2 separate regions of the Homo sapiens genome follow, and region 2 is linked to region 1. The links come from fine-mapping of genetic effects on gene expression. A gene starts in region 1. The other region holds a variant in brackets. All regions are shown on one strand. Distances are from middle to middle. Region 1 holds the start of CFAP58-DT (CFAP58 divergent transcript). Region 2 has its middle 8.9 kb from the start of GSTO1.

The links. PIP is the estimated chance that this variant, and not a neighbour inherited with it, causes the effect.
Region 2: its variant is the best candidate, but not a certain one, in a credible set for the expression of CFAP58-DT in whole blood (INTERVAL, PIP 0.59).

Annotation. Positions count from the first base shown.
Region 1 is chr10:104,351,142-104,355,536 of GRCh38, forward strand. It overlaps CFAP58-DT (CFAP58 divergent transcript), which reads right to left and starts at 2,434. Exons shown (of 2, transcript NR_108036.1): 1 at 1,977-2,434; 2 at 160-786. CFAP58 (cilia and flagella associated protein 58) reads left to right here and starts at 2,692. Exons shown (of 18, transcript NM_001008723.2): 1 at 2,692-2,765. The coding sequence starts at 2,757. RefSeq lists enhancers at 87-146, 905-954, 975-1,084, 2,362-2,421.
Region 2 is chr10:104,243,805-104,248,199 of GRCh38, forward strand. No RefSeq gene overlaps it. Among named protein-coding and RNA genes, the nearest start is that of GSTO1, 8.9 kb to the right of the region's middle. The variant A/G (reference allele first, on the strand shown) is at 2,198.

The DNA of each region.
Region 1 (4,395 bases):
ATTTCTATTAGCTTGGCTTACAGTGTGGTTCAGCCTGCCTCTCCAGTTCATCTGCCACCTCTCCAGCAACCTCCATGCACATTATGACTCAGCCACATTTCCCTCTTTTTGTCCACCAGATATACAGTGTCAGGTCATGAATGAGATGTCACTGCACAGTTGCCAGTTTTCCTTGCATTTATTCATCAACCCAACACAGTTCTCATAAACTTGACAAACTTACTCTAAACATTATAAGGGAGGATAAAGGCCCGTGGATAGACAAAGCAATCTTAACACAGAAGAATTTGGAATGGGGAACTTGCCCTTCAAGCATGATGACTAACTAAAAACCCACAGTGACAAAACCTTGTGGTACTGACACATGAACAAACCAGAGAGCTCAGAACATACTCATGTCTATTTGGAAACTTCCCCAAACCAATTTGGAAAGAATGGATTGTTTGACATGGGTTGTTGGAAAATTTGCTCACCCCATGGAGAAAAATATAGTTAGATCCCTATCTCACACCATATGGGAAGGAGAACTCCAGATGGATTAGATAACTGAATGTAAAAAAGTAAAACTATGAAGCTAATGGATAGAAAAAAATGATGGGAGAATACCTTTATGACCGTGGGGTTAAGGAGGTCTAAATAATACCAAAAAACTATATAAAAAATATAGGGAAAAAAAGAGCTAAAGAGCCACAGTATCAAAGTTAAGGACTATTGTTCCCTTAAAGACATAAAGGCAGAGTTTCTAGTCTTCTAAAGCAGATTGATGTCCAGGCTTCTCAAAGATATCTGTAAATCAAAAGAAAAAGAAAAAAGATCAATAGAAAAATAGACACAGACACTGAAAAGGCAGTTCACAGAAGGGAATCTCAAGTAGCCTATGAATGTATAAAGAAATGGTCAAAAAATTCACTAGTAGTTAGAGAAGTGAAAATGAAAGCAAAAAATGAGCTTACACTACTTTCATCATATTGACAGAAATTAGAAAATTAGCTAATTAGATGAGTCAATATTTGCAAAGCACTTAGAATAGTATCTGGTATTTACTAAACACTTTATGAGTGTTTAATAAAAAAGACCTATCACCTTCTGGAAGGGATGGATGGAAGTGTTGGATGGAAACCCCACACTGGAGTGCAGCGTAGGGCAGTAACTCTGGTACACAATCTTAAAGTGCTTGGTAAGTACCCAGGGCTTGTACTAGGCTACTGGGCATCGTTGTGCTCTTGGAAAACTGTTCATCTGGCCAGATGAGTTTGAAAATATCACACCCTCTAGATAGTTACAGCCTTCTAGGTTCATGACTTGGCTGGCGTACAGAGATTTTGTGAGAATAAAAAGTGCACACCTTTCTCCAGTAGGGCACATGGCACGGGAAAGAGAGTAGAGACAGTTTTTCAGCCTCCATTGCCCCATGGCTGGATGTGTTTGTGCAGGACGCAGCTGCATAAGCAAATGTCCCTGTGCATCCCTATAACTTTAACAATCTTACTCCTTGGCATATATTTCAGAGGAATTTGCACAGAGGTCCTTAAGGGACCACGGACAAAGACGATCATGGCTGTATTACTTGATGTATTGGAGAATTAGAGGCGGCCTTGTTACCTAACACCTGGGGAATGGAAGTGAAGTGTGGTAGATGCCCCTTATGAAACGCTGTGCAGTACTCAGAAGCAATGAACTATATGCTTGCCAATCGCAACGAGGACAGATCCTTAAAAAGAATGTTGAGTGAAAAAAGTAGAAAATAAGATAATCTCCAAAGTCCAGTAGCATTATTTAAACATTTTTAAAAAATACACTGATAAAAATTTTGTACATTTCCCAAAAATACATATGGAAGCACAGCAGCATGAATGCCTATGGGGTTGAGGATAGGGGTTGGGAGTAGGGATGGGGATAAAGGGGGAAAATAAAACCAGAGAGGAGTCTTACACATTTCATGAACCAAGGAGTATAATTATTTCAACTATTTGTACCTGAAGTCCAGAAAGAGTGGAGGCAGAAGGGGGAGAAGAGGGCGAAGAAACGTTTTTGGGAGAGGGGTCCCAGAAGAGAGATTTTCGCGATGTGGCGCTACATACGTTTTTCCAGGATGCCTTAAGCTCTGCACCCTATTTTTCTCATCACTAATATTAGATTAAACCCTTTGAAGACAGCGTCTGTGGTTTCTCTACTTCAGCTTTCCCTCCGTGTCTTGCACACAGTAGCTGTTTTACAAGGGTTGAACTGACTGAAGTGAGATTATTCCTCGTTGTCTCGGAAGGCAGAGTGTAGCCGCCAGTCCTTCCCTCATCCGGAACCTTCTGGTCCACATTTCCTTCCAAGCGTTAGTCCTCGGCTCTCCATGCTTGGCTCCCTAGTGTCACACACCGTCCTTTCTGGGTGGCCTCTTCCAATTCGCCCTCTTCTTTCTCCTGGGTGTCTCCATCTGCCCACACCGTGGGACTCCTCCCAGCCTCTCAGGGGCACCGCCCCCTCACTTCCTTGGCTCCGCCCCATTGGGATATATTTGCATATTTCTCTGAGGAACCCTGCCCAGGTGCCAGCCGCAGAAGCTCCTCCCCTTTCGAATTCCCGCTAGCGCCCCTAGAGGGCGTGTCCGTTGCCAGGCGACGGGCCGACGCGCCGAGCGCGGGTTTCCGCTCGGGGCGGGCGATAGAGACAGCGCGTCGCGCCTTTAGCTTCTTTCCCAGACTCCGGCCCAGCTCCTGCGATCTCCACAGCAGCCTCTGAGGCCGCCCCCAGAGAGCATCAGGATGGCTGAGGTCAGGAGTCAGCGCCCCTCTGTCGCCTTTCCCTTGACCCCTCCCCATTGTCCCTCTCCTACTGACGATTGTCACAAACGGTGATTCCAATATTTCCCCCCATCAACATCTTATTCCCCTGCACCCTCACTCACTCCCGCGCCTTTCTCCGTTGGCTCTGGCCTCTTTACCTCCTGTTTCTCCTTCATTTGTGTGGACACCCCACTATCCCCACTGTGGCATCGGCGCTATGCTAAGTGCGGTAGAAAATTAATGAATTCTGAAATCCACACGTGACATGCACCCAGCCCTAGATTTTTAGTCATGGAGTGATACCATAAGAGAGGCTCACACAGAAATATTGGAGATGTCTTATCTCACAGGGGAAACCGGGAAGAAAGCTTCACAGATGCCTGCTGTCATCCCAATCAATGGCCCTTGTCCACCTGTCACACCCTGATTTCCTAACATGTGATCACCTGCTGTCACACAGCTTCATTAAGGCTCTTCTGCCCATCACCTCTGCCCCGTGTGTTCATTGACTCCTGTGTTAACATCTCGTATCACCCCACCACTCCCCCATATTACAGTACACCCCATTTTCAGCCTCTCCAATGAGGGGTTATTTCTGCAACCCTTCAGTGACTCCCTGCCTGCCCCTTAGCCCCCTCACGTATAACCTCAAGAGCCTCGGGTCCCTGTCATTACTTGCCATTCACAGTCCCCATCCACTATGGCCCTACCCAAATCCTTCATGGCCCCATCAGAGCCCTTCCCCCATCACCCATCCCACGGTCTGTTCCAGCCAGGACCAGCTACATGATTTGCAAGGCCTGATGCAAAGTGAAAACACAAAGTCTCTTCAAAAATTACAAATAATTTTAAGACAGAACAGCAGAGCATTCAACCAAGAATGGGGCCTTTCTGAGCAAGGGGCCCTGTGCAACTGACCAGTTTTCACTCCCATGAAGCCAGCCCAAGCCCCATCATCTTTCAGCACCATCGTGCTCCACCCCCTCCCCACCCCATTCTAGTTACTCTCTTGCTTCCTCTGCACCATTCACATCCCCTCATCATTGCTTTTCCTCCATCTCCAGTCTAGCTTTATAAATTCCGTCTTCCCGTGGTCAACACCTCCTTCCTTTCCTTATCATACGATCTCTTTCATATCATCCATCTTCCTCACGCCTGGGCTCCATCACTCACATCTCTCTCTGACATCCATGCTGCTGTGGCCACTTCACTTCTCCCCATTACCCATAGTCATTTGTATCTCTTTCTTCCCATTTCCTTTCTTGTTCCTTCTAGTTCTTTATTGTCCCATTATTGCTTTTGAGTGTTTTCTCCTCTTTTCTCCCACCAGTCATCTTTGTTTATTTCATTCTTCATTCCCCATAGGGAAGCCCCAGCCTCCCAGAGGCACCAGCCCCTCATTTCCTTGGCTCTGCCCTATTCAGGATATATTTGCATATTTCTGTGAGGAACCCTGCCCAGGTGCCGGCCTCAGAAGCTGCTCCACTATTATGGATTAGTTATTTCCATTTCCCTCTTTCTGTTACTCCTCTCGTTTCTTCCTTTCTTCTACTTTTCTTCTTACTTGACCTCAGCCAACTTTCTCGATTCTGCTTTCACAATTCTCTATTTCCCCTCT
Region 2 (4,395 bases), 110 kb before region 1:
ATGGCCATCTGAGGCTTTCTGCCCTTTTCTGGGGGAGTGCCCCTAGAAGGTCATACTCTACCACTGTCTTTTTTTTTTTTTTTTTTTTGAGACCGAGTTTCACTCTTGTTGCCCAGGCTGGAATGCAATGGCGCAATCTTGGCTCACTGCAACCTCCGCCTCCTGGGTTCAAGAGCTTCTTCTCCTGCCTCAGCCTCCCAAGTAGCTGGGATTACAGGCATGTGCCACCACACCCAGCTAATTTTGTATTTTTAGTAGAGATGGGGTTTCTCCATGTTGGTCAGGCTGGTCTCAAACTCGCGACCTCAGGTGATCTGCCTGCCTCGGCCTCCCAAAGTGCTGGGATTACAGACGTGAACCACTTCACCCGGCCCATTTTGTCTGTTAATGCATATGCCCAGAAAGTTGCTTCTCTCTGGTGCCCGCATTCAATTAACACTTTAGTGCAGTAATTGTGGACCATCAGAAAATGGCCTCTCCCTGGCTCCAGCTGCCAATTTATCACTTTTAGAGAGGCAATGTGATAATTGCTGAACCATCACCTGACATTCCTAGTGGGCGGGGGAGAGCTGTCTCCTGCCCTGCTCATGCCTAACTGCCTGTAACACTATGGTACATGTTTGAGAAACTAGTACTTACTGAAAGATAAAATAACATAGGAGGAAGACTTTGTAGGAGACAACAAAAGGGGAAGACAGTGGAATTTATAAGAATGACAAAATACATTGCAGAGTAATATAAAGTAAGGAATTTACCCCCTTGAAGTACTTGGTTTGTGGTGGGCATGGGACTTCTGATATGTCTTGGAGCCTTGGATGCCAGGTAATTACCAGTTTTGCAGAACACTGACATCTATGGACTCTAACATGGACTCCATTTAAAGAACTCCAAGGACGATTAATAAACAAAAACACAAATCAATTTGCACTGTTGCCTAAATATCACCTAAAATAGCACGTTAGGAAAGCACCAAGTACCAAGTGTGTGAAGACATGGTCTGAAGAAGTGTCTGAAGACCATCATTCCACATTTCACATTGAATAATATCATGAAGACTTAAGATCCTCTTAAAAAGCTTCAAAGCTCATCTTTATTAATTTCTCACAAAAGTAAACCTCTTCCCAAAAGTATAAACTTAAAACTACTAATGTATCAATATATTCTATTTTGTGTCGTCTCATCGTGAGAGGTGACAGCGTGCTGGCAGCCCTCGCAGCCCTCGCTCGCTCTGGGCTCCTCCTCTGCCTGGGCACCCACTCTGGCGGTGCTTGAGGAGCCAGCCCTTCAGCCCGCCGCTGCACTGTGGGAGCCCTTTTCTGGGCTGGCCAAGGCCGGAGCGGGCTCCCTCAGCTTGCGGGGAGGTGTGGAGGGAGAGGCGTGGGCGGGAACCGGGGCTGCCCACGGTGCTTGCGGGCCAGCGCGAGTTCTGGGTGGGCGTGGGCTCGGCGGCCCTGCACTCGGAGCGGCCGGCTGGCCCCACCACCCCGGGCAGTAAGGGGCTTAGCACCCAGGTCAGCAGCTGTGGAGGACGCACAGGGTCCCCCAGCAGTGCCAGCCCACTGGCGCTGCGCTCGATTTCTCGCTGGGCCTTAGCCACCTCCCCATGGGGCAGGGCTCCGGACCTGCAGCCCGCCATGCCTAAACCTCCCCACTCCGCCGTGGGCTCCTGTGCCACCCGAGCCTCCCCGACCAGCACTGCCCACTGCTCCAGGGCGCCTGGTCCCATCGACCACCCAAGGGCTGAGACCTGCCAGCGCACAGTGCAGGACTGGCAGGCAGCTCCACCTGCAGCCCTGTGCAGGATCCACTGGGTGAAGCCAGCTGGGCTCCTGAGTTTGGTAGGGACTTGGAGAATCTTTATGTCTAGCTAAGGGATTGTAAATACACCAATCAGCACTCTGTATCTAGCTCAAGGTTTGTAAATGCACCAATCAGTGCTCTGTGTCTAGCTAATCTAGTGGGGACTTGGAGAACTTTTGTGTCTAGCTCAGGGATTATAAATGCACAAATCAGCACCCTGTCAAAACGGACCAATCAGCTCTCTGTAAAATGGACCAATCAGCAGGATGTGGGTGGGGCCAGATAAGGGAATAAAAGCAGGCTGCCTGAGCTAGCAGTGGCAACTTGCTCAGGTCCGTTTCTGTGGCGTGGAAGCCTTGTCTTTTCGCTCCTTGCAGTAAATCTTGCTGCTCCTTGC[A/G]GTAAATCTTGCTGCTGCTCGCCATTTGGGTCCACACTGCGTTTATGAGCTGTAACACTCACTGCAAAGGTCTGCAGCTTCACTTATGAAGGCAGCAAGACCATGAACCCAGCGGGAGGAACAAACGACTCCAGATGTGCGGCCTTAAGAGCTGTAACACTCATCGTGAAGGTCCGCAGCTTCACTCTTGAAGCCAGCGAGACAACGAACCCACCAGAAAGAACTCTGAACACATCGGAACATCAGAAGGAACAACTTCCAGACACGCCGCCTTTAAGAACTGTAACACTCACCGCAAGGGTCTATGGCTTCATTCTTGAAGTCAGTGAGACCAAGAATCCACCAATTCTGTACACAATTGGACTTCCCTTTAATTTTTTTGGCTTTTAGGGTTTTTCATATTGCTTGTGTTCCCTTAGACGGGAGACAAACAATACTTTCCAGAAAAATACATGTTTTGGGGCCTTTTTCACTAGTAAAAACCTGGCATAACAATAAAACTAACTTTGCAAATATTATGACAGTGCAAGAAGTCCAGCATGGCTGACTGCATCTTGCTTCTAGCCTCACAGGCTGCCTGTCCTCGCTCATTCCTGGGTGTAGGCTCAGCTAACCCCGGGAGGAATTTAGTTTATGGTTTAACTTTGAAGCAAGGATGGTAATAGTCTGTCCCTAAAACTGATCCCCTCATTATCTGGGGACTGAAACCACCTTTGTAAGACTAATGAAAAAGACACAAGATTAGGCGTGTGGGAGAGGCCTGAATTCTGCTAAAATGTAAGCATGGTGAAATGATAACCAACTATTGTTTTGTATAATCCCTGAGTATTAAAATGTAGGTGTAGTTAAGCAGTACTACCAGCAGTTACTATTTCCTAGCTTGCTTTTCTATAATTTCTTACTGTTCAGGAGTCATGAAGTCAGAGGTCATAAGATTTGTAATTGCTTCTACAGTTGACATCACTATTGTCAAAACCTAAGACTGGTTTTTGAAATACTTTTCAGACTTCTGCATTCTGGTAACTAACTCCACCCAGACCCATGATTCGTATCAAGGAACTGACTCAACTGTTGGTCCCCACCCAGAATTGATTCAGCACTTGGAGACAGTTTGGACACTCCTATGATTTCATCCCCAACCAATCAGCAGCACCCATTCTCTTAGTCTGCTACACACCAAATTATCCTTAAAAGCCCTAGCTTCTGAGCTCTCGTAGAGGCAGATTTGAGAATTATCTCCTGTCCTACCACTTATCTGGCCCTGTGATGATTAAACTCCTCTACTGCAACACCACTGTCTCAGAGAATGGCTTTATCTGTGCAGCAGGCAAGATGAACCCATTAGGTGATTACAGTAAGTTTAGAAGTAGGTGTTTTGTTGTATTCTATGACAAAAATTTGAGTTAACATAAGTGAGGATGAAGTGGTGAAAATATTTGAGTTCAGATTATACTCTCAGAGGCTACGTGGCATGGAGAAAAAAGCCCTCGACCTTAAAGTTCATGGTTCTTATTCTATCTCTGCCTTTTACTAGGTCTGTTATAACTGGAAAAGCCACTTAACCTCTCTGAATCTTAACTTCATCTGTAAAGTGGATCTGATATTTCCCTGTCTACCCTCACAGGATTGTGGTGAAGATCAGATAAAGTCATGTACATAAAAAAGGACTTTCATAGAAAATGTACGATACAGTTATGTGGTCTTGTTACATAGTTGCAAGTCATTTCCCCTTAGCTGTTGAGTCTGGGAAGAAAAGTGGTTTACAGGCACACTGAAACAATATGCCCTGTCTAGGCAGGATACATGGTAACAAGACTATGTTAGTTTTTTAAATTTTTTTTCTGAGTTCATAGAATACTATTGTGAGCTAATTCTCAGAAGGAAGGCTATAAATTTCCCTTAAATTGTTAATTAGCATTTATAACACACATTTGTGCTCTAGAGCAGTTCTGAGTTGGAACGTATTAGTGGTTGGTAAGATCTGCTTACTAAGTTGTAACCAACATGTCTTTAAAATGAACGGAACAAAAAAACTTCACAGTGCATCCCAATGGTAAGTGTAAATTCTGTTTTAGGGGTGTGTGTGTGTGTATGTATTTTTTATTGGACATTAAATAAAATACATTTTTTTCTTTAAAAATGTCAGTAAGTACTTTAGGGGGACTGTGAGGGAGACAAACTGTATTTAGTCAGCTCTA